Homo sapiens: one gene and its partners. The protein of the gene in region 4 interacts with the protein of the main gene of each other region in a pairwise test. Each region holds a gene or a part of one and is shown on either strand. Other genes may lie near its edges.

What was found.
Region 1: the proteins of ESRP1 (region 4) and CHAT interact in binary tests that used the Homo sapiens proteins (3 or more experiments, as listed by UniProt).
Region 2: the proteins of ESRP1 (region 4) and LAMP2 interact in binary tests that used the Homo sapiens proteins (3 or more experiments, as listed by UniProt).
Region 3: the proteins of ESRP1 (region 4) and PECAM1 interact in binary tests that used the Homo sapiens proteins (3 or more experiments, as listed by UniProt).

The regions. Positions count from the first base shown.
Region 1 is NC_000010.11:49,645,032-49,652,061, forward strand, and holds part of CHAT (choline O-acetyltransferase), read left to right. Parts: intron 1-1,473; coding exon 1,474-1,643; intron 1,644-3,475; coding exon 3,476-3,576; intron 3,577-4,476; coding exon 4,477-4,605; intron 4,606-6,852; coding exon 6,853-6,975; intron 6,976-7,030. UniProt on the Homo sapiens protein: Catalyzes the reversible synthesis of acetylcholine (ACh) from acetyl CoA and choline at cholinergic synapses.
Region 2 is NC_000023.11:120,459,286-120,466,315, forward strand, and holds part of LAMP2 (lysosome-associated membrane glycoprotein 2 isoform A precursor), read right to left. Parts: intron 1-7,030. UniProt on the Homo sapiens protein: Lysosomal membrane glycoprotein which plays an important role in lysosome biogenesis, lysosomal pH regulation and autophagy.
Region 3 is NC_000017.11:64,318,914-64,324,889, forward strand, and holds the end of PECAM1 (platelet endothelial cell adhesion molecule precursor), read right to left. Parts: intron 4,933-5,976; coding exon 4,903-4,932; 3' UTR 502-4,902; downstream 1-501. UniProt on the Homo sapiens protein: Cell adhesion molecule which is required for leukocyte transendothelial migration (TEM) under most inflammatory conditions.
Region 4 is NC_000008.11:94,700,174-94,707,203, reverse strand, and holds part of ESRP1 (epithelial splicing regulatory protein 1), read right to left. Parts: intron 1,280-7,030; coding exon of another isoform or gene 1,259-1,279; 3' UTR 1-1,258. UniProt on the Homo sapiens protein: mRNA splicing factor that regulates the formation of epithelial cell-specific isoforms. Specifically regulates the expression of FGFR2-IIIb, an epithelial cell-specific isoform of FGFR2.

The DNA of each region.
Region 1 (7,030 bases), on a different chromosome or scaffold from region 4:
GTTCCCCGGAAGCTGTGGTGTAGTTTTTTGAGATCTTGCTCATAGAATTTAGACACCTGGTTACCCCTAGCTGTAAGGGAGGCTGGGAAGTATAGCTCTAGTTTGTTATCCATGTACCAAGCTAAAAACCAGGGGTTCTACAAGCAAGGAAAGAAAGGACATGTGGTGTGCAACTAGGAGTCTCTACCATGTAATGAACCTTTCCCTGCAAATGCCATGCACCCATCTTCCCACACACAGAGCACTCTCACCCCTGCCCTGGGTGCCTCATCCTGTCCCAGCATCCAGCCCCCAAGGTCAGGCTCTCCTGGTGATACGCAGCCCTCACCATTGGGTCTTGAAGTGACTCCTTGGAATTTTAAACCAAAATGTTAAACTTTGGGTGGACTTTTTAACTTTTGGTGAACTTTAAACCAAGAGGCAGGCTGTGTACCCCCACACCCAGTACTGAGCAGTGGAGAGAACATCGTCAGCACAATAGACTCCTGTTTGGAAGAAATGGGAACACGCAGCGGGAGCAGGCCTGGCCCCCAACAGGTCCTGCCGGGTGGGCTTGGTGAACCTCCCTGTGCCCTGTGGAGGAAGCTGCCAGGGAGGGCAGCTTCTGGTGCTCTCTGGGAGGAACGCATGTGTCCTTGGTGAAATCACGTGCTCTGTGCCTGACTCCCGCTCCTGAAGAGCCGTCCTTGTCTGTACTCTTCCAGTGCCACCAGGGAGGGGGATTCCCTTTTGAGACCTGCTTACTCTAGAAGAATGTCTAGAGGAGCCTGGGAATTGGTAGAGGCTAACACAAAAGCCAGCTGTGGGCCAGGCTTGGAGCTCCTTTGGATCCATGAGTCCAAAACTGCCCCTACAAGCTCATCCAGATGTGGGTTCAAGGCAGCCTGGCCCTTCTGCCTGCAGCTCTGCCTCTGAACCAACAGCTTGGGGGCAGGGAGGTGACCAATACACTTCCTTCAGGTTTTAATGTGAAATTGCCTAATTTTGAAATTGCAACAACAATTTTGAAATTGCAGTTTAGATGTCTGAAAGTCATAGTTCAGCACAAACAAGCATGCCTACACACAGATGTGGCTCACAGGAGCCCCAGTGGAGGGTGCTGTTGGGTGGGGGATTAAGGGCCCTTCCACTGATGTGGGCTGACATGAGGGTCTAAGCATCCCGCTTCATCTTGGCATGCATGACCAATAGCCCACACATCTGGAGGAGAGCTGGTCACAGCTGGAGAGCAGGGCTCCTGCAGGGACCGTGCGAATGAGCTGGGATCCTGGGGTAGGACAGAGGCTCAGGACACTCTGGCTGACTTCACTGCCCACCCACAGTGGGGCAAGGTGGGGGGTCAGGGCTGGCTCAAGACCTGGGTCTTGTTGTGATCCCAGAAGACAGGGCTGCCCTGCCCTGTGTGGGGCTCTGAGGAGGGAAGACTGGCCTGGAGCGGGACAGGTGCTAGGGCTGTGCCTGCCTCCCCTGCAGACTCCACCAACCGGGACTCGCTGGACATGATTGAGCGCTGCATCTGCCTTGTATGCCTGGACGCGCCAGGAGGCGTGGAGCTCAGCGACACCCACAGGGCACTCCAGCTCCTTCACGGCGGAGGCTACAGCAAGAACGGGGCCAATCGCTGGTACGACAAGTCCCTGCAGGTAAGCCGTCCAGGTGGCCCTGCAAGAGCACAGCCATGCCCCCAGCGAGAGAGTGAGTAGGCAAGCGGGCACAGCCTGGTGCCCAGGCCCGCACGTGCTTGTGTCTGGCAGGCGCACTCACTGGTTTCTGCTGCCTAAGAGGCTGGGTCTGAGGGGTCAGGAGAGCTGGAGGGGTCTGAGATGTGCTGTTGATGTCAATCTCTGGACCAGCCAGAACTCTTCTCAGGAGCCAGTGGCCGAACCCAACTCAAACTCCCTAACCTTCCTGCAGCCTGTGCCAGGAAGGTCTGGGCCAGACCTGGGGCCCATTTCCCATCACCCATCACACCTGTGAGGTGGGGGTGTGCCAGGAGTAGGAGAGTATAACAGCCCCACTGAACAAATCCTTAATGCATGCTGAAATAATAATTTCTGATGCCCAGAGCTGTCAGCTTTTTGGATGTCCACCCCCGTGGCCTGGCGATTTCAACATACCTCCCTCAATCCCTGAGAAGTAGAACAGCCCAGCATCTCCATGGAAGAAAGACTGTAAGATGAGATAAAATAATTCATATATGTTCATTTACATGACATCAGCCTAGAAGCAAGAAATTTACTTTGACCTAGAGAAAAATACCCATGCAGACGGGATGAAGTCAAGGTCAAACCATTCATTCCCATTCTGCCATCCTCCTTTTATTCCCCCAACATGCCAATCCTGAACCTAGTCTTGTTTATTTTAAAGTCACTACACTTTTATATGATATGCCATGTAGTATAAAACAGCAGGCAAAAACAAAACATCTCTCTACTTTGGGTTAGCAAAGCTCACATTGATAAGCATATCTAGACAACACCTCGTTTTCCTTTCTCTCTGTCCCTACATTCTGCAGGTTTTCCTTTTTATTGGTTTGCATATTGATTCTGTTATTTCTGATGCGCTCTCCAGCTGCTGGGCCAGCTGTTTTAGCCTCTACAGTGGTGCTAATGGCTTATCATCTTTCATGGAGCTGTGGGGGTGAACCGATATAATACATGCACAGAATCTGGAACTCAGCCTTGGTAGCAGTTTTCAAAAGACACCGCTTTCCTTCCTTCCTTCCTTCCTTCCTTCCTTCCTTCCTTCCTTCCTTCCTTCCTTCCTTCCTTCCTTCCTTTTAGTGACAGGCACAGATAAGTACTAATGTGGGGGGTGGGTGCAGCCCTCTCCACCACCTCTCATGGGTTAGTCTATGCTGACCTCCAGGTTCTTTTCATCAGCAGGGCAGATTATCAGGCGAACCAGAGAAGCCAGCAGGGCTTCATGGACCTGAATTCAAGATGATGGAGAACTGGTCTCAGGATAGCAAGGCAGGGGACACTGGGGGCGGGAGGGGAGGGCCTGCAAAGGGTGAGTTTGGGGAGAAGCTCTGTGGGAAGTGAGTTTCTTTGTAGAATGGGAGTAAAGATCCAGCCTCTGGCACACAAGGCAAGAGATTGGGAGGAGACCCCGATGTGAGCTATGACAGGAAACAGGGCTGAAGGGCCTCACCCAGGCCCCAAGGGCAGCTGGGCAGACTCGTCCTGAGGATGAACTCCTCAGAAATCCCTGGACTGCTCAGTCCGGGAACTTGGGGCTCCACCTTCACTGCCCACAGCTTTTACGGGAAAGAGGTCGTGAGTGCAGAGTAGTCTTGGATTCTCATATTCTCAGGCCACTGCAATCACATGCAGTGTTCTCTTCAGGAAATAATGTGCTCTGGTGTCCCTGGAGAAGAGGTGCCCTGAGAAGCCAGGGGCCTAACCTGGGGCCAAGGGGCTGCCTTGCAATGCTGACTCTCCCATGATCGCCCACTCCCTCTTTCCTGTTGCAGTTTGTGGTGGGCCGAGACGGCACCTGCGGTGTGGTGTGCGAACACTCCCCATTCGATGGCATCGTCCTGGTGCAGTGCACTGAGCATCTGCTCAAGCACGTGTGAGTCTGGATCCCAGGGCTGCCATGCTGGGCCCAAAAAAATGTGGGTGGTCGCTGGGGGCTGTGTCAGTCTGGAAAGCGTCTTAACAAAAGATGAATTTGAAAAAAATGTGTACTATACACACACACACACACACACACACACACACACGATGAATTTGAAACCCAGCTTTGTATGCGACATCATGTGCTTCACGGGCCATGGATAGGAGGCAGCAGATTTACGGCAGTCAGGGAGAAGCATGGCAAGGAATTCTCAGGAACCTCTGCCTTGAGAGAGGGGAAGCCTACATCGATACCTATTGCTTATCCTGAGTCAGGGCCAGGCCCACGGCTGCCCCAGCACAGGGGGAGTTCTCTGAGTCTCACTGCTTCCAAATCCCAAGGCTGGGTCCCTCCTTAGCTCCCCAGCAGGGTTCCTCTGTGCCCTAAACACATGGTATTCCTTCCTCTATTCCCAATTTTACCCATTCTCTCCTAGAATCTTCTCCCTGCATCCAAGTCTTCAATTTCTTCCATGAAACTCAGGGTTACTGAAACCTAAACCAAGCCTAGTAGGCACAAACCTTGTAGAAGAGAACAACACAGCTTGCTCTTAAATTTCTCTCCAAGTCTTCTGTAAGGGTGTAACATGGTCTAATAGGAAAACAATGAAAAGAAATAATGGGTTTTGGAGTCAGGCGGAACTGGATGGAGCCCTGGCCCTGCCACTTAATGATTTTGGTGGCCTCTCTGAGCCTCAGTTTATTCATCTGCACGGTGGTTCAGGGGCAGCTCGTACCCCCTGAAACTCCATGGCCGCAAACACTGACAGCTAAGATGATTGCACAGAGCAAAGAAGAGATGCCTCCCACAGCTGTCTGGCCGCAGAGCCTCAGGAGGTTGCCTCTGTGCCCGCAGGACGCAGAGCAGCAGGAAGCTGATCCGAGCAGACTCCGTCAGCGAGCTCCCCGCCCCCCGGAGGCTGCGGTGGAAATGCTCCCCGGAAATTCAAGGCCACTTAGCCTCCTCGGCAGAAAAACTTCAACGGTAAGGATAACCGAAGTCTCCTTTGAGGGGTCCCCTAGGGACCACCCCGCCCTTGCCTACTAGCTCCCAAGGCTCCCTGGAAGTTTCCAAAGACCCCAGCTCCTCTGCCTCTCCTTGGGCTCCACCTCGTCCCCATCCCTCATGTAGTCAAATTAAAGGAGAGATACAACTCTGGGGAAATAACCTTGCTGAAGTATCCATCATTTCTCTAAAATGCAAACGCAGGGCTATTTTTTTTTTTTTTTTTTTTTTTTTTTTCAGTTTCACCTGACTGAGCAGAGTCAAGGCCGGGAAATCATCCCCTGCTTTAGGGGGAGTAATAAACAACTGGTTTGAATAGGTCATTTGAATTCAAGCTATTTAAATTTGCTTGAATGTACAGTGCAACTTGACAAAGGGGCCTTTTTCCCCAAGGGGAGGGGGCCGTTCAGGCCCTAACGGGACCCAGGCAGGAGGGCCTGGGGCAGCAGCAAGCAGTGGTGGCAGCCACATCCTGGCAACCACGTCTGCACTGTAGCTGTTGATTCTCCCATTCAGTAAGCAAGCACGAATGCATTCATTCACTGGTTTGCTCATTCATTCATCAAACATGTGCAGAGCTCTGGTGTGCACCCGGCCCGTGGTAAGGCTCTGAGAACACAGAAAGTTAAGTACCATGGGACCTGCACTCCATATTTGAGTGGAATAAGTAGACTCCCAGGCCAAAACATGTGATACAGTAAGATTAATGCCAAAAGCAGAAACAGCCATGCTGACCTGAACCCACAAAAATATAGAAGCTGAACTCTGTCAGGACTGTGAGGGAGGGCCTTGTAGAGACGGGCCTTGAAGGATGGATAGGAGTTCATGGTGCAAGCAGATGGGGAAGAGGCAGAAAGGCAGCTTCTTCAAGCTTGTACAAGTTCATAATGATGAAGGCTGGTTTGGAGACCAGCAAGTGAGAGAATGGCCAGAGTGGGGCCACAAAAAGGAAGTTGGGCCACACTGTGATGAGTGTCACTGTCCTGTTATGGGCCTAGAGCCTGCCCTGCCACTGGAGGGTTCTGTGCAGGGGGTATGGGGACGCCCCTGAGGAGGCTGTGGGAAGGGCACATGTGAGCAGGACAGAGTGTGGCCAGGCTGGGAAGCTGAAGAGCGGGAAGGACCCATCCACTGGGAGCTGCTGGAGAGGTTGCCTGGCTTCAGTGGGCATGGAGGGGCCTCAGGTGTTCTATAAAGTGGTGCTCACATCTCAGCTTTGCAGGGTTGTTCAGGAGCTAAGTCAGGGGCCAAGGCAGTGAGCTGGTGGGCTGCTGAGTCCTCAGTGGGTAAAGGAGTCCACTCACTTCCAGGGACCTGAGCAGACCCCACATTCCCCAAGGCCCCCAGCTCCACCCTCCAGAGGCTGAGGAGAGCCAGGAAAGGCCCATGGATGGGGAAGAAGGAGGCTTCTTCCTGGGGGTCCTGAGGGGCCCATACAAGTGGGTGAGGCCCGAGTGGGCACAGCTTGGGGGAGAGATTTCCAGGTGGCTGTGGTGATAGTGAGCTCAGTCTGTCCCAGACGTCTGTCAACAGGTAGGTCTAAGGAGCGAGTACTCATGGGAACTGGGTCTCCTCCAAGTCCCCCTGTGTTCCTAGCACCTGGCCCCACCGAGAGCTGAGCTGCTGTGAGCAGGAGGAATACTTCAAGGAGAGGCAGGCAGGGAGCATGGAGTCCCGACAGAAGGTGTGCGTGTGGGCTCGGGGTTCCCACTCAGGCTATGCGCTCTCCAGTGGGGAGGCACATAGACCTTGCCAGACACTGCTCCAGTGGGCAGTCAGCTCAGACCCCAGACTCCTGATGGAGGAGGAGATTGTTCAATATGAGGGTCAGCCAGTGCTCCAGAGTCTCAGTGCAGACTTGGAAAATGTTCCTGTTACTCCGACAGTGAATTACAAAATCCCGGGCATGTCACCTGTGTCACAGTTAATCCCTGACTCACTAACACAGCCAGGCCCACCTCCCCACCCACTCTCCAGAGCAGGGCCGACACCCCACTCAGCTGAGCTCACCTTGGGTCATAGTAGTCCTGGCCTGGTTTGTCTTCTGACACTTTCATAGGTCAAGGCATGTCTCTGACACCTCAGTGCACTCCTGAAGGGCAGGGACTACGTCCGCACCTTCCAGAACGCTAGGACACAGACCAGGCTCTAGAAGCCCGGGGAAACCCCAGATGCATGCATACTGTTTTGCATGCAATAAAAACATCTTTTCTTTTTCTTCCTCAGAATAGTAAAGAACCTTGACTTCATTGTCTATAAGTTTGACAACTATGGGAAAACATTCATTAAGAAGCAGAAATGCAGCCCTGATGCCTTCATCCAGGTGGCCCTCCAGCTGGCCTTCTACAGGTGAGTGAAGGTGGAGTGAGTCTGTACCCTGGAGGGCTGACGGACACAGTGCTGT
Region 2 (7,030 bases), on a different chromosome or scaffold from region 4:
CAATTTCTGGCAGAAATCACCACCCACTATAAAAGCTGAAAACACTGGATACTTGCTTTCCCAGACTCCCTTGCAGTAAGGAGGACCACTTGTGCTAGGCTCTGCCTAACAAAGGTATCCACCCCACACTTTGAAAGGAGGGCTGCAAATGGAGCCAGGAATGGAACAGGGAGGGAGACAGGTGTGGAGTAACAGAAGCAGGATCAAGCTCCCAGGCAACAAGGCCAGCAGAGCAAGCTTCAATTTCACACTTGGCAGTGGTAGTGCAGTTCAGCAGCATGATCTGGGTTGTTGAATCCTGAACTGGGATTTGGTATATATAGCCAGGAGCACCAGAAATTCTGAGTTACCCAATATACCCCTTTAATAAACATTTGATATGTAACATATGTACAGAAACAGGCACAGTATAACAGATGTAAGGGAAAAGTGCACGTAACATTAAGTCTACAGCTCAAATAATTTCACAAACCAAAACCACCTGTGTCAAGAAACAGAACATTAACAGGTGTTGACCCACTGCACAGTTGAAAATCTGCATATTATTTTTGACTCCCCCAAAACTTAACTACTAATATCCTACTGTTGACTGGAAGCATTACCAACAACATAAACAGTCGATTCACACATATTTTGTATGTTATATATGTGTTACATACTGTGTTTTGAAAATAAAGCTAGAGAAAAGAAAATGTTAAGAAAATCATAAGGAGGGCTGGGCATGGTGGCTCACACCTATAATCCCAGCACTTTGGGAGGCTGAGGCAGACGGATCACTTGAGGTCAGGAGTTCGAGACCAGCCTGGCCAACATGGTGAAACCCCATCTCCACTAAAAATTTGCTGGGCTTGGTGGTGGTCACCTATAATCCTAGCTACTTGGGAGGCTGAGGCAGGAGAATCGCTTGAACCTGTGAGGTAGAGGTTGCAGTGAGCTGAGATCGCGCCACTGCACTCCAGCCTGGGCAACAGATAGAGACTCCGTCTCAAAAAAAAAAAATCATAACGAGGAGGAGGAAGAGGAGGGGTTGGTCTTGCTGTCTTCAGGGTGGTAGAGGTGAAATAAACTCATGTATAAGTAGATCCACACACAGTTCAAACTTGTGTTGTTCAAGGGTCAACTACACTTCCAAAGCCCTCCTTATTTCCCTTTCCCTTCCCAAGGGTTACTATTCCCTTCCCAAGGGTAACCATTATCCTGATTTCTGACACTATAGATTAATTTTATCCATTTTTCAACTTGATATAAATAAAATCATTCACTATGCTCTCTTTTGTGTCTGCTTTCTTTCCTCAATTTTAGGTTTTGTGAGATTCACCCATGTTATGCATAATTGCAGTCTGTGCTCACTGCTGTATAACCTTCTATGATCAGGTGAATACAGGCCAGGTGGGGTGGTTCACGCCTGTAATCCCAGCACTTTGGGAGGCCAAGGAGGGTGGATCACTTGAGGTCAGGAGTTCGAGACCAGCCTGGCCACCATGGCCAAATCCCACCTCTACTGAAAATATAAAAATTAGCTGGGCATGGTGGCACATGCCTGTAATCTCAGCTACTCAGGAGGCTGATACAGGAGAATCGTTTGAACCCGGGAGGCAGAGGTTGCAGTGAGCCAAGATCATGCCAATGCACTCCACCAGCCTGGGCAACAAGAATGAAACTCTGTCTCAAAAAAAAACAAAAACAAACAAACAAAAAAACTACTTATCTATGCTACCTTTAATGGGCATTTAGTTTCCAGTGTGATTCTATTACAAACACTGCTGCAAACATTCTTGCACATATTAGTAAACACATGTATGCGTGTATGTTGGCTGTATATCTAGGAATGAAACTGTGGGGCCAAAGGGTATGCATTATATCCCAGTTCTTTTTAATAAATTCTTTTCTGCTTAAAATCAATCAGATTGTATTTCTCTTCCTTGCAATTAAGAACCTGGGCTGATATGCTATCTGTTTTTTCAGTAGCCATTTTCTCCACAAAGCTTTCCCTGACTATAAAAGCCCTCAAGGAGCAGTAATAATGCACATCCCATTTCAGTATATTTTACATTATCCTGAATTATTCAGTTATTTTATAGCAGTAAATCCTGTCCCTCCTACTGTCATAAGCTCCAACACAGCAGTTTTCAACTGTCACTTCATAACAAACTGGTGTGCCATGGTAAATTATAGTATACAGTAAGTAATTTGTTACTAATAAAAAAAGTACCAAGTCTGTGAATGAATGATATATATGGATAGATTCAAGATTCCCTTTAGATAACATTTCTGTCACTCGTTTGAACTCCAGTATGCTCCCTTGATCAGATGATCTGATGTATCCCACAACCCCTAGCAGTGTGTCTTTTATATGAATGTCATCTATCATGAGTGTCATGGTAGGGGACACCATGTGTATTACTTTTCCTCTATCTCCTATCATTCCAAGTAGTGCTGAATGCATATTAGATTTTCAATAAATACTGATTAATTATATCAAGGTGAAAACACACTGCAATAGGGACCCAAAACATAGCTTAATCTAATTACAGAGAGGCCAGTCCTTTAGCTCTTCCAAATCTTGAACATATCAGTCTTCTGGATATTCCCTCAAACCCCATGTTGGGTTTCACTTCAATAAATTTTGACATGGATGTCAAGCTAGGAACAGAGCTTTTCCCAAAAGGTAAGTTTACAGTTGAAATATTTACACTTTATTAAAAAGTATCTAGCAAGCAATTTCCATCCTTATTGCTGTGTTTGATTTTACAATACCCAATTTTTAAAAGGCTTTATGACATTAAAAAACCATAGATGAATATATTCTAGAGTGTGTAATTTTAGAGCTGAGAGTTTATTCTCTAAATAAAAGAAAAAGGTATGCCTCAAAATCAACCGTTCTCAAAGTCAAATATCCTCTCAATCCTGTTTTCCAAAAAGGTCATTTGTAAATTCTTTTAGAATGCAGACCTTGACCGGGCAGTGGCTCACACCAGTAATCCTAGCACTTTGGGAGGCCAAGGGGGGCAGATCACTTGAGCTCAAGAGTTCAAGACCAGCCTGGGCAACATGGCAAGACCCCATCTATACTAAAAATACAAAAGAATAGCTGGGTGTGATGGTGCATGCCTGTGGTCTCAACTACTCGGGAGGCTGACATGGGAGGATCGCTTGAGCCCATGAGGCAGAGGTTGCAGTGAGCCAAGATCACTCCACTGCACTCCAGCTGGGGGAATGGAACAAGACCCTGTCAAAAAAAAAAAAAAAAACCTCTCACAGAGAACACAGACCTTACTTCCCCAAGTGTATGACACTGCAAAAAGTGGCTAGGTTTTTGCAAGTCTATTTGACCCAAAGTATAGCTGAAAACATAAACACACAAAATTAGGGGTGGGGGAAGAACATAATGCTAGCAATAAAACAAAACCAATAAAAAGAAACCAAACAATGATCCAAGATACAATGGATTGATTATATAATGAAGTGATTAAGAGTCCCCATTCCTGGAGTGGAAGAGCTAGAACTCAAATCTGGCAGTCCAACTTCCTAGCTGTGAGACTTTGGGCAAGTTACCCTTGTTTAGAATTATAGTGCATATTTCTCCAATAGGTTCTTTGAAAGCATATAAACCCTTCAGAGCTAAAAGAAATTTGCCAAACAAGTTAGATACCAATTTACAAGTCTCCTTTTTAGTAAACACAGCACCTAAAGGGAACCTTCCCAAGTTTTAGCTTTATGTTTACTTTCATCATATTAAATTCTGGACTCTTGTCCTCAAACTCATGAATTTAGAATGATGTTGAGCAAAAGGTCTTTTTAAAATACAGGACACAGAGGCATACGGTACCTATTTATCTTTGTTTTCTATTCAGAGTGATGGTTTTCCTACAAGTTTAAGTCAGATTAACTGTTTCTCCTTTATAATTCCTAATAATAGGTACACTCATTGCATTCAGTTACTTTATACCCTTGCTTTTGGTAAGTTTCTTAAAGGAGAAAAGCAATATGATTTTAAAGTAAGAATGTTGAACACATGAAAAAGAGTATTAAAAGTTAATAAAAATATGTTTTTAAGCTATAAAATGACTTAATTTGTTAAGGCCAAAGAGTGGGTAAGGAAACAAGATTCAACACTACTCAACTAATGGAAAGTGCTTATTGTTGAGCAGTGTTTGGCACACCTCCAGAATTCTTTCACAATGCACAGCAGGATACCAACAAGTACTTATAAAGTATACTTTTGGGTCTGAGGGGATCTCTGATCACTTTAATAAGAAATTATGATCAGAATACTTTTGCACTACAGAAAGAAGAGCAGCCTTCCTGCATCAAGGGTCATTTAAATCAGCTCCAGTGCTACGAAATAATGCTTGGTTATAGACAAAATCTACCCAAAGATATAGGGGAAGAAAGCTGTTCTTTTGGGACATATTTGAGTATCTATAACCCTATCAGATGTGACAATCTGATATTTGGGACATATTTGAATATCTATAACCCTATCAGATATGATAATCAATGACTAACAAACTAATCTGGTATTTGGGACATATTTGAATATCTATAACCCTATCAGATGTGATAATCAATGACTAACAAACTAACAAGCCTGTCCTTTCTTATCTTCTAGCTTGACTTCTGTTTTTCGTTTTTTTTTTGTTTTTTTTTAGGGTTCAGAATTTTTCAGTCCTTTACAGTATCTCTATTATAACTAGAATAATTTGGCAGAACCTCGAAATCAAAGTTATCAGTTAAATGAAATGTGTTAAGCCTATAGAAAAATCTTAGTGCTTGTTTTCTCTCAGAGAAAACCTAACTTTGTGAAAACCTAACTCTCCTCACCAAGGAACTCCTAATTCTCCATATTACCCCCTTCGAGACTACGGAGGTATATCTGAAGGAGTACAGGTAAGAAACTAGCATTATTATATGGGATTATACATTAGTAAATTACTGTATAATTATCCGTACTGCTTAGCACTGATCTTGAAGTTTTCAATCCAAAAGAACTTCTTGCAAAACATCATTTAAAATTCATGGAAGAAAAAGGAGACTAAATGAGTCTAGTTTACCACCATATCCCTAGTGCCCACCAATGAATATCTTCAACAAAAATTCACTACGGGTTAACCATGTACCAGACCCTATGCTAGGTAGGCAATGGGAAGTAACAGTACATAAGATCGTCTCTGCTCTTAGAGACTGCTACCATAGGAGAGACTTGACTAAAACTAGGGGGAAACAAAAAAGCGTGGAAAATAGGCTAGTAACCTAAGATTTTGCAAATGATAAGATTTATTCCTATTTCCCCAGATGGTCACATGGCTGGCCTCCTGCCAACACCCAGGTCTCTGCCCAAATGTCACCCGATAACGGAAGGCCCTCTGACCACATAATATAAAGAAGGATCATCCACCATCACCCATTCCTATCATCTACTCATTCTCCTTTCTCATTACCTGTGTAATTTTCTTCATAGTGTTTTTGTTTTGTTTTGTTTTGAGACAGAGTTTTGCTCTTGTCCCCCAGGCTGGAGGACAGTGGCATGATCTCGGCTCACTGCAACTTCCACCTCCTGGATTCAAGCAATTCTCCTGCCTCAGCCTCCCGAGTAGCTGGGACTACAGGTGCTGGCCACCATGCCCTTGTATTTTTAGTAGAGATGGGGTTTCACCATGTTGGCTAGGCTGGTCTCGAACTCCTGACCTCAGGTGATTTGCCCACCTTGACCTCCCAAAGTGCTGGGATTACAGGCGTGAGCCACCATGCCCGGCCTCTTCATAGTGTTTATCACTATCTGACATTATATTATTTATCTGTTGAGCTTTCTTCTCCCATTAAAATGTAAGCTCCATGAGAGCAGGAACCTCATCTGTCTTATCCATTCCTCTGTCCCTTTCACCTAATATAGTGGCTGGGACACAATAGGCATTCAGTAAACGTGTGGAAGGGAGAGGCTCCTACCAGTAACATACACTAAGAATATTTCTGTGAGGTTTTTCCCACCCAGAAAAGCCTCAAACCTAAAAAAAAAAAATTCTGAACCCTAAAAAAACAAACAAACAAACCAAAAAACAGAAGTCAAGCTAGTTATAAGAATCAATAACCACAGAAGAATCCTGAAATCTATGATATCACAAAAGGACCATAATTAGGCAATTATATAAAGAAAGGATTTTCACCCACTATCCACTTTATAACACCTCTAAATCATATAGCTTCTCTTCGGAAAGTTGTCTGGTCAGTTACAATTCATCCAAATAAACACCAGCATAATTTAATCTCTATGAAAAAGACCAATATATAGCCTCTAAGAATCCTTTTCTGTACTTATTCTAAAGCTGCTGTTTTTAAAAGGTTATGGGTGAAGCTGGGATAGAGTTATAAAGTTACAAAGTCAAACTGGCACAGCTAGAGCACTAATGCTAATAAGACTATAAATTTAGGACAGGTCCTCCTTCATTGGCACTCCGTACAGTACCCAGGCACAGTTCTAGCTACATAGTAGGTACTTTACAAATATTTATTGATTTAGCTACATATTAGGTACTTTACAAATATTTATTAAGTTTTCAAAAACCTATTATTGGTATCCATTTTGATATAGAAAAGTAACTTGTGCAAAACCCACCAAGCAACTGCTAAATTCTTGACAGAAAAAGCTATATGGGAGGACTTTGGGCTCCACACTGAACCAAGAGCCATCAGAAAATGCAGCTGTATAGAAAAATGGTTTCTATTTCATCCTGGAACCTCTTAAAAATCAGATCTAGGTACATTATTAATATTTACTTTTCCAAATCCTGCTCTGAACTTGGAGGCGGAGGGAATCAATCTTGGAAATTTTCCAAGAGGAAGAATCTAGTTAGTCCTGATCAATAAATGGCAAACTAGCAGATGAGCTGATGGGTTCTTTTATGTGCTTCTTTTTGCATGTTTATTTTCTGCAGTGAGTAAGCATTGCTTTTGTAAAAACAAAACAAAAAAGCTTTCATTAAAAAACAAAAAAAAATTTAATGACATGAAAGCCAACAAGTAGGACAACTAT
Region 3 (5,976 bases), on a different chromosome or scaffold from region 4:
AAAACTGCACACCCTCATAACCTTTTGCACCTACTCTTTTTTTTTTTTGAGACAGAGTTTCGCTCTTGTTGCCCAGGCTGGAGTGCAATGGCTCGATCTTGGCTCACCACAACCTCTGCCTCCCAGGTTCAAGCAATTCTCCTGCCTCAGCCTCCCGAGTAGCTGAGATTACAGGCATGCACCACTACGCCCGGCTGATTTTGTATTTTTAGTAGAGATGGGGTTTCCCCATATTGAGGCTGGTCTCGAACTCCTGACCTCAGCTGATCCACCCACCTCAGCCTCTCAAAGTGCTGGGGTTACAGGCGTGAGCCACCGCGCCCGGCTGCACCTACTCTTAGAGAATTCTCAGGCCCCACGCCTTACCCCAACTTCTGTTACCAGTGGTGAATCCAATGGGTCTGCAGCAAACTTGATGCTTGCCTTCTCAAAGACAGAACTCAGCTGAGGGGCAGAGGTGGTTTTAAGTGGTTTTAAGGCACAGGGAGAGACCAAGGCAAGTTTTAGAGCAGGAGTGAGAGTTTATTAAAAAGTTTTAGAGCAGGAACAAAAGGAAGTACACTACACTTGGGTCAGGCAGGCAACTTGAGAGATCTAAGTGCCCTGCCTGACCCTTAACTTGGGGTTTTATGTATTTGGCATAGTTCTGGGATTTACGTCTCATCTCCCCTGATTCTTCCCTTGCAGCAGGCTGTCCGCGTATGTGGTGACCTGCCAGCACTTGGAAGGGGTCGCATGCACAGTGTGATTACTGAAGTTGCGCGCATGCTCACTTGAGGCATTTTTCCCCTTACCAGTCGTGCGTTCCCAGAGGAAGGTAGGTCATATACTGGTTAAATTCCGCCATTTTGCCTCTTGGTGCGCATGCTCCAGGCTGCTTGCCCAGCTCCTGAGATCTTATCGGGAAGCGGCTGATCACCAGATCAGGGTGTTTTGTATCTATTGAGAGACTGTCCTTGCTTGGAGCTGGCTGCAACCAATTATTATTTTACAGAGACAGTTTAACAACCACCTGACCATCACCTGATGGTAGCCTGACATTCCTGTGGGGGCCCTCACCTGTCCTGCTCATGTTTGCCTAGCTCCCTACTCTAACATTTCCACTCTGTGGACCCCAGGTTGAGATCTTCTGCAGGGAAGACTGTCCTCAAATAGCCTGCTGGGGAGACATCTCCTTCCCGTTTACCTTTCCATTTGCCCTTGCGGTGTTAGGCAAAGGCTGAAGCTGGCCTCTGTGGCAGAGGGTTTCTTCCCAACACGCCAATGACGCTGGTGGAGAGTCTTAAAAACAGCTGTGCTGGGGAGAGTTCTTGGTGTGTACCTTTCAGAGACCTCCTCCTTAAGACTCTCAAAGACTGAGTCAGGCCAGTGGGAGCCTGGCAGCAATTCTTAGGGGACAGTGACAGCTTTTTGAGGAGGACTAATTGGCTTCTAGGGCTGGAGGCCACTTGGGTCTGACAGACTGCCCTGCTGCCATCCCTCCAGGGCACCCCCCACTCCCTTGCCTCAGGGCCTTCCTGCACTTCTTCCTTTTGTCCTCAATGTTCTTCACCCCACCTTTTCCACTGGTACCCTCTGCCTATGGTCAAGGCTTTGGTGAGACCCACTTTCCTCTTAGACCTTCCTGGATCCCCCAAAGTCTGTGTTGGAAGCCCCTCCCATGTGCCCTTGTTTGAGCTTTTAATTTTCCACCATGACGCTTGTCACACTGCTTTGTAATTGGCTCTCTGTTAGTCTGCATCTCTACTGGGTTGTACCTTCCAGGAGGACAGCTGCCATGTGACTCTTGTAATCTTCCCACCGCCAACACCCAGCACAGCGTCAGGAACACAGAGCATGATGAGCACAAGCTTGTTGAGCAAACAGACAAATAACTGGATGCTTCTGTGCAGAGTTTCTCAACCTGGCCATTATTGGCATTTGGGACTTGATCATGCTTGGTCGTGGGAGACGGTTCTGTGCCTGTAGGATGTTTAGGAGCATGCTTGGTTTCTACCCACCAGATGCCGGGAGCACACCCACCCAGCTGTGACAACCAAAAATGTCTCCAGACACCATTCCAAAACCAGCGGGAGACAAAATCGCCCGACAGTCGTTGCTTTAGTGAGTGAATGTTGACCTAAGCGTCACTTCGCCTGTCTTGAGTCTAGGTCGGGGAGTGGGTTCAGTTAGCCAATCAGAGAACGCTGATGGGGCGACCAGTATATGCTCATGAAATGGGTGGCTGACCTCTTGGGGTCAGAAGAGGGAAAAGTTTTACTGTGTGTTGGCTAAGGACCATTTTAAGTCCTTCAGTGACCGATTACCACATGAGAACACAAGAGGGCGCTCTAACTAATGAGTTCCGCGGCCGAGAAAACTCCTGGAGTGGGTGCTCCTGGGATGCTTCAGGTTTAGACACCGGGGTTACGGCAGCTGCCGAGGAAGGCTAAAGCCAGCGTCCTGGATTCAGACAGACCTTTTAGCCATTAAATCCACTAAGAAAGATCCCTGCGCATGAAGTTTCCTCCTCGGAAATATAGGCAGAAGGGAAAGTAATTTTAAACTCATGTGTGCTCCACAGGCCGGGGGCGGTGGCTCATGCCTGCAATCCCAGCACTTTGCGAGGCCAAGGAGGGAGGATCACTTGAGCCCAGAAGTTCGAGACCAGCCTGGGCACCATGGTGAAACCTCATCTCTGCAAAAAAAAAATTAAAAATTAGCCAGCTATGGCGGCTCACGCCTCTGGTCCCAGCTACCCAGGAAGCTGAGATGGGAGGATCGCTTGAGCCCAGGGGTTCGAGGCTGCGGTGAGCCATTGTTGTGCCACTGCACTCCAGCCTGGGCAACAGAGCAAGCCCCTGTCTCAACAAAACAAAACAAAACAAAAAATTCAGTCGTGCTGCATAAGTAAGGCACCAGGAGTAGGAATAGGGTCTTTGCAGCTCCCGTGGCAATTGCCCTTCTCTGGTGGTGGCAAGGGACTAAGGAACTCCCTGGACACAGGGGATCTGGCTGTCCCCAGATCATCAACAGAGACATGAAGGTCGTTAGAGGTCGTCTGATCCTTTGACCTCAATCTGAGCCCACCACTCAGAAAACCTGGAAATTGTATGACATTTTCGTGATACAACTCGGTGTGTGTGTGTTGGGGAAAGGAACCAACAGCTTTCATCATATTGTCAAAAGAGTCTAGGCTGGGCATGGTGGCTCACGCCTGCAATCCCAACCCAAAGGCCTGTGGAGCACACATGAGGACAAGGCGGGCAGATCACCAAAGGTCAGGCATTCGAGATCAGCCTGGCCAACGTGGTGAAACCCCATCTCTACTAAAAATACAAAAATTAGCCAGGCGTGGTGACATGTGCCTGTAATCCCAGCTACTCGGGAGGCTGAGACAGGAGAACTGCTTGAACCCAGGAGGCGGAGGTTGCAGTGAGCAGAGGTTGCGCCGCTGCAGTCCAGCCCGGGCAACAAGAGCGAATCTCCGTCTCAAAACAACAAAACAAAAACATAGACCTGCTCGGTTCTCTCTGTGACTTCAGAGGCCCAAGGAGTCCTCAGCACTATAGATGCATGTGGCCCCTCAGAAGACAACATTTCACAGATCTGCAAAGAGCAAAGGTCAAATTTATTTAATACAACATCCACGAGGGTCCCTGCAGCTGTGTCACTGAGGCAAACAGGAAAAGTGATTTTGGCTAGGCGTGGTTCTCATCTGTGAAATTCCACAGCGCAATGACAGCAGCCTCTCTCCCACCCACTCAAGACACTGTCAGGAATGTCTTAAGACCTCAGGAGACCACTTCTTTAGCAAGCAATTTTGTTTTTTGTTTTTTTTGAGATGGATTCTCACTCTGTCACTCAGGCTGGAGTGCAGTGGCGCGATCTCCGCTCACTACAACCTCCGTTTCCTGGGTTCAAGCGATAATCTCACCTCAGCCTCTTGAGTAGCTGATACTACAGGCATGCGCCACCACGCCCGGCTAATTCTTGTATTTTTAGTAGAGACAGGGTTTCATCAGGCTGGTCTCAAACTCCTGACCTCAGGTGATCCGCCCACCTCAGCCTCCTGAAGTGCTGGGATTACAGGCGTGAGCCACCTTGCCTGCCCTGGCAAGGAATACATTTTTAAAAATTAGTAAGAAACATACACATTTCAAGTTTTCAATTAAGAATAATATTTGCTGATGGCACCATCTTCCTGTCTTTCAGCCTTCAGCATGGTAGAGGAAAAGAGAAAGAGTGTAGACAAAAACAGTTGAAGAACATCTGTGCTTGTTCCACCTTCATTTTCTGTTTTGTGCGTTGCCTGAATGAACGGTGTCTTCAGGTTGGTATTTCACAGGCGGTGCTCCCAAGTAGTCTGGTTTTCCCATTTGTGGAGGGCGAGGTCATAGAGGGGACAGGGGGAGGCTGTCTGGTCAGCACTGTGTATTTCCAAAGAACAAGGACTAGCCAAAACTACAAGCCTTTGAAGGACCAAAGGAAAAGAGAAAAAACCAGCCTCTAACCAGGCCATGCGCTAGAAATGATTGAGTATAAAAAAGAAAATTGGTTTCTGTGTATGAGGGTGCATGGAAAAGGTCTTTATCTCTGCACAAAACAAAATATTCAAGTTTCAGAATATCCCAATGGCCTTGCCCTGGATCTCCTCTTGTGCTCTTCCAATTTCCAAGGATGTTCCAACTTGGTGGAAGGAGGGTATGTGGGAAATTCAACAGCCCCTCTGTATCTCTTTCTACCCAACATTAACTTAGCAGGATGGATTTAAGAACCGGCAGCTTAGCCTGAGGAATTGCTGTGTTCTGTGGGAGCAGGGCAGGTTCATAAATAAGTGCACAGAGGTCTTGAAATACAGGGATTATCTGTTCTTCTCGGAACATGGATGTCCTTCCAGGGATGTGCATCTGGCCTTGCTGTCTAAGTTCCATCAAGGGAGCCTTCCGTTCTCTGTAGCGACAAGAAACAAGGCAAGTTATGATCACACCTCTCAAGATTGAAGATTGCCCTGGTGGAGAGAAATGCAAAATGACAGCACTTCTCAAAGAAAATGCAAAGCAGGGCTGTCACACACTGGTCCCCCACCCTGCAGGGTTCTCTCTGTGACTTCAGAGGCCCAAGGAGTCCTCAGCACTACAGATACACGTGGCCCCTCAGAAGACAACATTTCACAGATCTGCAAAGAATAAAGGTCAAATTTACTTAATACAACACCCACCAGGGTTCCTGCAGCTGTGTCACTGAGGCAAACAGGGAAAGTAATTTTGGTTAGGTGTGGTTCTCACCTCTGAAATTCCACAGCACAATGACTGCAGCCTCTCTCCCACCCACTCAAGACATTGTCAGGAACGTCTTAAGACCTCAGGAGACCACTTCTTTAGCAAGCAATTTTTTTTAGATGGATTCTCACTCTGTCACTCAGGCTGGAGTGCAGTGGCGCGGTCTCTGCTCACTACACCCTCCCTCTCCTGGCTCCTGCCCGTATGTATTTCTCCTTCTCTCCATGCCTGCTCTGTAGGGACCATAGCCTCTGTCCCTGCATACATGTTGGACATCAATCACATCAGTCCACCAAGTAACTTCATCAAGCACCCATGTACGCCCAGCACAGCGTCCCAAGGGTGCCCCACTTACCCACAGAAGAAGAAAGGCAACTTTGTAAGAGATCTGACTTCTAGCTCCAGTTCTGTCTCTAGCTAACGTGAGATGTACCCGTTTGAGGCCTGTTTTTTAATTTTGAAAATGAAGGACTGAACTTAGATGGTCCAACTGAAATGTTTTAAAATGATATGATTCTACCTTAAAAAGAGAATGAAATTCTGATATATTTTCAACACAGGAAAACCTTGAAAACGTTATGCTAAATGAAATAAGGCAGACATGAAAGGACAAATATATGATTCCACTTATGTGATGTACCTCAAATAGTCAAATTCATAGAGACAGAAAGTAGACAGTGGTTGCTAGGGGTTGCTGGAGGGGCAATGGGGAGTT
Region 4 (7,030 bases):
CTTTAAGGTGTTAAAGTAATGCACAGAAAATAAAAATAGCAGCCTCATAAATCTGCACGGCATTGCATTCAAGCAAAGGACAATATGAGTAACTTAGAGAAATATCCACATTCAATGCACTTAATGAAATCCTGTTTTCTTTGGAGTTACATGAGGCAGCAGTACTAGCTAGTGTCTAATATTGCACTTTTATAGCATAAACACAGCTAAACATAGTGTTAAACACTGACAGCATCAGTACCTGTTCTAATTGCATCAGTGTTTACCTCTCAGTCTAGCATGCTGACTATAGTCCTATGCTTTAAAAGGTTATAATTATTTGACAGTTAAGGCATTAGAGGAAAAAGGTTTAAGGCTATCATAATATATATAAGCATTCACTTCTGTTCAGTTAGTGTATTGTTTTCTAGAATACACTGTTCAAATTGTCTCACTTCTGGGATATTAAAAACTATGGAATTTCTCTTATTAAAGTCCAAACCATCAATAATGAAAAAAGTACAATATAAAATAATACATATGAAGCCACAATATTCAATTACAGTTCAAACTAGAAATTACTAACTACATGTAGCTGCTTCATTTTTCGTTTTGCATTTTGGCCCCTAATTCATTATTTACAACTGATACCTGCTGAGAAAAAGATCCAAACTTTTAAACTTTGTATGTTTTGTGGAGGGTGCACAATTTCTTCTAATTTATCTTCAGGTGTTTTAAAATTTAATTTGTTTTTAATCATAAGATATCATCATGGCCAAGAGACTGGGAAAATAACAATTTTATTCTTTCTCCTAAGATTGTGATTTTATTATTCCAAGATCTTATGCTTGAATTACTTAGCAAGAAGGCATGATTATGCAGAAGACAGGGAAATGAAGAGAAAAGAGCGGGAATATACAAAAATGAAGCTTCCTTAACAGAGTTCATGGTGGAGATGGTAGACACTGGTGGAGTTTTTATCCAAGACTTAAAACTTAGGAAACACCTATGATGCCACTTTAACTGGAAGTAATGGAGACATCTGATTCCAAATTCACATTTTAAATGCCTATTTGCAATCAGCAAAGAGCCAGGTATGCTGCATGCTGCTTGCTGTAAGTTACGATTTGGCTTCACTAGCTCAAATTTTTTCACTCCACCAAAAGATAAGGCACAGGCCCGTTTGTCCAATCAAGTTTGCTGAAAATACTGCAGCCTGAGTGTAGACAAACTTCCCCTGAATTTGCTAGAAGTTTTCTTGTGTCTGGAGGTTTCAAGATCACCATACATCTTTCAAACACTGAAAAAAAAAAAAAAAAAAGTGAATAAAAGGAAATGTTATAGTCTCTAAATGTCATTCTCAGCAGCCACAAAAATGATTTCAAATTCCACAAGGACTTTGTGGAAAAAAAGCCTTAAGATGGTCCAAGTTATTATTTCACACAGACATAGTTGGCATTTACATGGCAAGGGCTTTGGGAGTACAGCACTAGCCAAGGAAGTTTCCATGGTTTACACAGTAGTTGGCGTTCTGCACCACTCCTACCCTTTGTAGTATCATGTGTTTAGTTTAACATGTATGGTTTCCGACTCCCTGCTCAGCTCAGCTCCTTTCTGGAGAGACTATTTCATTCATTCCTTAGAGGTTCAATATCATTACCAAAATAAACAAAACAATTTAGACAAAATTTTAAAGTTAAATTCTAGTATAAGAAATTCCAAATAATTTCTAAGACACTTAATAAGAAGCAATAAGGAGCCGGGCATGGTGGCTCATGCCTGTAATCCCAGCACTTTGGGAGGCTGAGGCAGGCAGATCACATGAAGTCAGGAGTCTGAGATCAGCCTGGCCAACATGGTGAAACCCCATCTCTACTAAAAATACAAAAATTAGCTGGGCGTAGTGGTGTGTGCCTATATTCCCAGCTATGTGGGAGGCTGAGGCAGGAGAATTGCTTTAACCTGGGAGGTGGAGGTTACAGTGAGCCAAGGTCATGCCATTGCACTCCAGCCTGGGCAACAGAGGGAGACTCTGTCTCAAAAAAAAAAAAAAAAAAAAAAAAAAAAAGCAATAAGGCATGACATAACAGCAAACATATGGGCTCTATATGCCTGTGACTAGTTGATGATTAGCACCTTTATATGGATCATGGATAAATTTATTTCATCCCCACATACAACCTTTTAGATTACCTTGTTATCCCCATTTTAGAGAAGGAAAAACTGAAGCACAGAATGATTAAGTTAGTAATGGGCAGATGCAGGATTTAAACTAATACAGATTGGTTCCACTATGTTATTTTACTTATATACCATACAACCTTAAAATAAGAACTTTTAGTAGGCATTATATATTGTTTTGAAACAGGGTCTAGCTCCATCACCCAGGATGGAGTATGGAGTGATATGATCCAATCATAGCTCACTGCAGTTTTTTTTTTTTTTTTTTTTTTTTTTTCAAAAAGAGATGGTGCCTTGCATTGTCACCCAGGCTGGAGTACAGTGGTGAGATCAGAGCTCGTTGCTGCCCCAAATTCCTGGGCTCAAGGTATCCTCCACCTCGGCCTCCTGAACAGCTGGGACTACAGGCACACCACTATATCCAGCTAATTTTCAAATTGTTTGTAAAGACAGATTCTCACCATCCTGACCAGTCTGGTCTCAAACTCCAGGCCTCGAGCAATCCTCCTGCCTTGACCTCTCAAAGTGCTGAGATTACAAGTGTGAGTCACAACACCTGGCCCTAGGCTAAATAAAAGAGATATATATATATTTTAGAGATGGGGTCTCCCTATGTCGTCCAGGCTAGTCTCAAACTCAGCCTCAAGTGTTCCTCTTGCCTGGCATTCTAAAGTACTGTAAAGTGCTGAGATTACATGTGTGAGCCACCACACATGGCCATTATGCATACTTTGACATGTAAATGAAAAACAGGAATGTTTTAGACTTCAGTCTTATTTCATATGGCCAGTATGAAATGTCTAATGGAGTTTTACTGCTTAACAATGAAACTGAAGACTCCTAACTGCTAGCAAAAAAAAAAAAAAAAGTCTCAGAAGCACATGAAGATTAATTTATTTCAAGATTAAATCTGCCTTAATAACATAGATTCTACAAATGGTACAAATCTAATATCAGGTATTTAAAAAACATGGAAATATTGGTTAGGATGCATCTTTTAAATGTGGTTTCCAAAGTGACCACAATTTGGCACTCAGTTTAAAATACCACATGCTGAAAGGCTTCTCCTTTGACACTAAATTCAGATAAGAAAATCAATGACCCAACACTATTGATCAGTATCTATTTTACCCCTCTTTTGGCAGTAGCACCTGAATTGAAAACAACTGCCCCATCACCTAATCTCAAGCCCCTAAGAGGCAGTTTTACCACTGAGCCAAACAAGGGGCCCAGACATGGCCAGTTAGAGCCCTGCATATCCCAGGTCATTGTGGTTTTAGGATGAACGTAAGCCAGGCCAGTGAAGGCCAAGTGTTGCTAGGGGTATCTCAGAGAGTGAGTTTGGATGAGCAAACCCTTGGATCCAGCTACATCAGTCAACCCTGGGACTGTCAGTTATTAGAGTCAGTGAGTACCAACTTCTTCATTCCTATCACATTTATACTAGGAAATAGCATCTTTGTAGATGCTGAAAATTAAGCCTTCATATTCTGATAAAATGTGGAAATGCCAGGAAAAGTTAAAGTTAAACGTTTAGCCTTCTCGAACCGTTTTTTAATGCCAGTGGAGTTTGACTGTGTAACAATGAAACTGAGGCCAGGAGCGATGGTTTATGCCTGTAATCCCAGCACTTTGGGAAGGTGAGGCGGGCAGATCATGAGGTCGAGATGGAGACCATCCTGGCCAACATGGTGAAACCCTGTCTCTACTAAAAATAATAAATAAGCTGGGAGTAGCGGTGTGTGCTTGTAGTCCCAGCTACTCGGGAGGCTGAGGCAGGAGAATCGCTTGAACCCGGGAGGTGGAGGTTGCAGTGAGCCGAGATTGCGCCACTGTACTTCAGCCTGGGGATAGAGCAAGACTCTGTCTCAACAACAACAACAACAACAAAAAGAAACTGCAGACTCCTAACTGCTAGCAAAAAAAAAAAAAAAACAATCAATCTCAGAAGGAGATAATGTTTCCTCTTCCCGTTTAGCTATAGCAAACAAAGTTGAGAATTACAACTGCAGACATTTACAAATCTGATTTCCCTTTCAAATAAGATCTGTGTTAAAACATGTTTTTATTTTGTAATACACTGTCATTAAAGTATTACATACAAAGAAGTCTTTAAAGATATCTGGATTTCACCACTGGTGCTATATGCTACAGAATGAACCTATAATCCCTTAAAAACCCTGCAATTCTACAGCCAGGCATGGTGGAGAACACCTATAATCTCAGCTACCAGGGAGGCTAAGGTAAAAGGCTCACTTGAAGGCTGGGCGTGGCGGCTCACACCTATAATCCCAGCACTTTGGGAGGCCGAGGCAGGCGGATCACGAGGTCAGGAGATTGAGACCATCCTGGCTAACATGGTGAAACCCCATCTCTACTAAAAATACAAAAAATTAGCTAGGCATGGTGGTGTGCGCCTGTAGTCCCAGCTACTCAGGAAACTATAAGTACTTCCTATGTGTTTTTACTGTTATTCTGGACTCAGATTATCTAAATGGAAAAAATAAGATCTTATAAAAAGTTTGTTCTTTTTAATCATCTTACACAAGAACTTGCAACATAAAGTTACAAAATGATCAAATACAGTTTTTATATTTTTTCATGTAATTAACTGGTAACCGTCCAGACAGAGGTAAATACTGTGTTATTTTTGCATAAAATTTCTCAGTAGGAATTTCTCATTATTTAGAAAGTTTATGTAATCTGAACTCTTTAGAACAGATCCTATGGAAGGCCTAGAAAACACACCTATCAAAAAAGCAAAGCCCTGTTGCTTAAGGCTGACAGTCCAATAACAAAAAAGGGAAAGATAACACTGATCTAAGTACTACACTCCAGCCTGGGTGACAGAGTGAGATTCCATCTCAGAAAAACACAAAAAAACCCTATGTCCCTATGATTATTATAATCATGACAGCAAAAGTTATGTATTAATATAAAACTTTAGTTTGTAAAACTTGTTTTCATTCATTAACTCTCGCTCTGTCGTCCAGGCTGGAGGGCAGTGGCACGATGACAGCTCACCGCAACCTCGACCTCCTGGGCTGAAGCCATCCTTCCACCTCAGCCTCCCGAGTAACTTGGACTACAGGCATGCATGACGACACCTGGCTATCTTTTAATTTTTTGTAGAGACGAGGTCTCACCACATTGCCCAGGCTATTCTTGAACTTCCAGGCTCAAGCAATCTTCCATGCACAGGCATAAGCTACCATGTACAAGCCAAAATATCATTAATAGATTTAAATTTGGGGGCTGACATTGCCTTTGAGACCTAACAGATACGAAACTTGGAACTTGGCCAGGCACAGTGGCTCATGCCGGTATCCCAGCCCTTTGGAAGGCTGTGGCAGAGAGACAGCTTGAACCCAGAAGTTCAAGACCAGACTGGGGCAACATAGTGAGACCTTGTCTCTATGGGGACAAAAAAAAGAAAAAAAAAAGAAAAAGAAAAAGAAGAAAGCAACTTGGAATGTAACAGTAACTGGAGAAAAACACCCTTTCTGGCGATCTGAGGAAGCATTTCTTCCAGCCCGACACCCAATCTCCTTCCCAGAAAGGCTTGTGGGCATCTTGAATGGTTAAATGAAGCATATCTCCACTGATTCAGTGGGATAGTCAACGTGTGTTGGCTGGGTTGATGGGACAAGGCAAGAGAAGACAGAATAGTGTGACTTCTTTACCAGACCTCGCTGTGGGTGTTAGCTTTCTTTACCTGATCCTATAGCCAGCCATGAGATCAATCGCTCAATTCTTTTTTTTTTTTTTTGAGATGGAGTCTTGCTCTGTCGCCCAGGCTGGAGTGCAGTGGCGTGATCTCAGCTCACTGCAACCTCCACCTCCCAGGTTCAAGCAATTCCCCTGCCTCAGCCTTCTGAGTAGCTGGGATTATAGGCACACACCACCACACCCAGCTAATTTTTTTCTATTTTTAGTAAAGACAGGGTTTCGCCACGTTGGCCAGACTGGTCTCGAACTCCTGACCTCAGATGATCCACCTGCTTCAGCCTACCAAAATGCTGGGATTACCGGCATGAGCAACCGCACCCGGCCCTCTTAACACACACACACACACACACACACACACACATACACACACACACACATTTTTTTTTGAGTCGGAGTCTTGCTCTGTTGCCCAGGCTGGAGTGCAGTGGCGCGATCTCGGCTCACTACAAGCTCTGCCTTCCGGGTTCATGCCATTCTCCTGCCCCAGCCTCCCGAGTAGCTGGGGCTACAGGCGCCCACCACCACACCCAGCTGATTTTTTGTATTTTTAGTAGAGACGGGGTTTCACCGTGTTAGCCAGGACGGTCTCGATCTCCTGACCTCGTGATCCGCCCGCCTCAGCCTCCCAAAGTGCTGGGATTACAGGCGTGAGCCACTACACCCGGCCCTCTTAACATATTTTTAAAAATACTGTTAGTTTCCTGTCACTGCTGTTACCATAAATTGGGTGGCATAAAATAAGAGGTATTCATTCTCTAACAATTCTGGAGGCCAGGAATGAGAAACTGTGTCAGTGCGGCTGTGCATCCTCTGGAGGCTCCAGGGAGCAGTCAGGTCCTTGCCTCTTCCAGCTGCTGGTAGCTGGGAACACTCCTGGGCTGTGTCAACAGCTCTCTCATCTCTGCCTCCCTCGTCACATTGCTGCCTCCTCTTCTGTATGTGTCTCTGTCTGATTTCCCTCTGCCTCTTTCTTACACGAGTGATTGTATCTAGGGACCACCCAGATAATTCATGATCTATTTTCCTCTCAAGAACCTCATTACAGCTTTTTCCATAGAAGGTAATAGTCACAGGTTCCAGGGATCAGGATGTGGACGTATCTCGGTAGCCACCATGCAGTCCACTGGAAGCACTTTGCCAT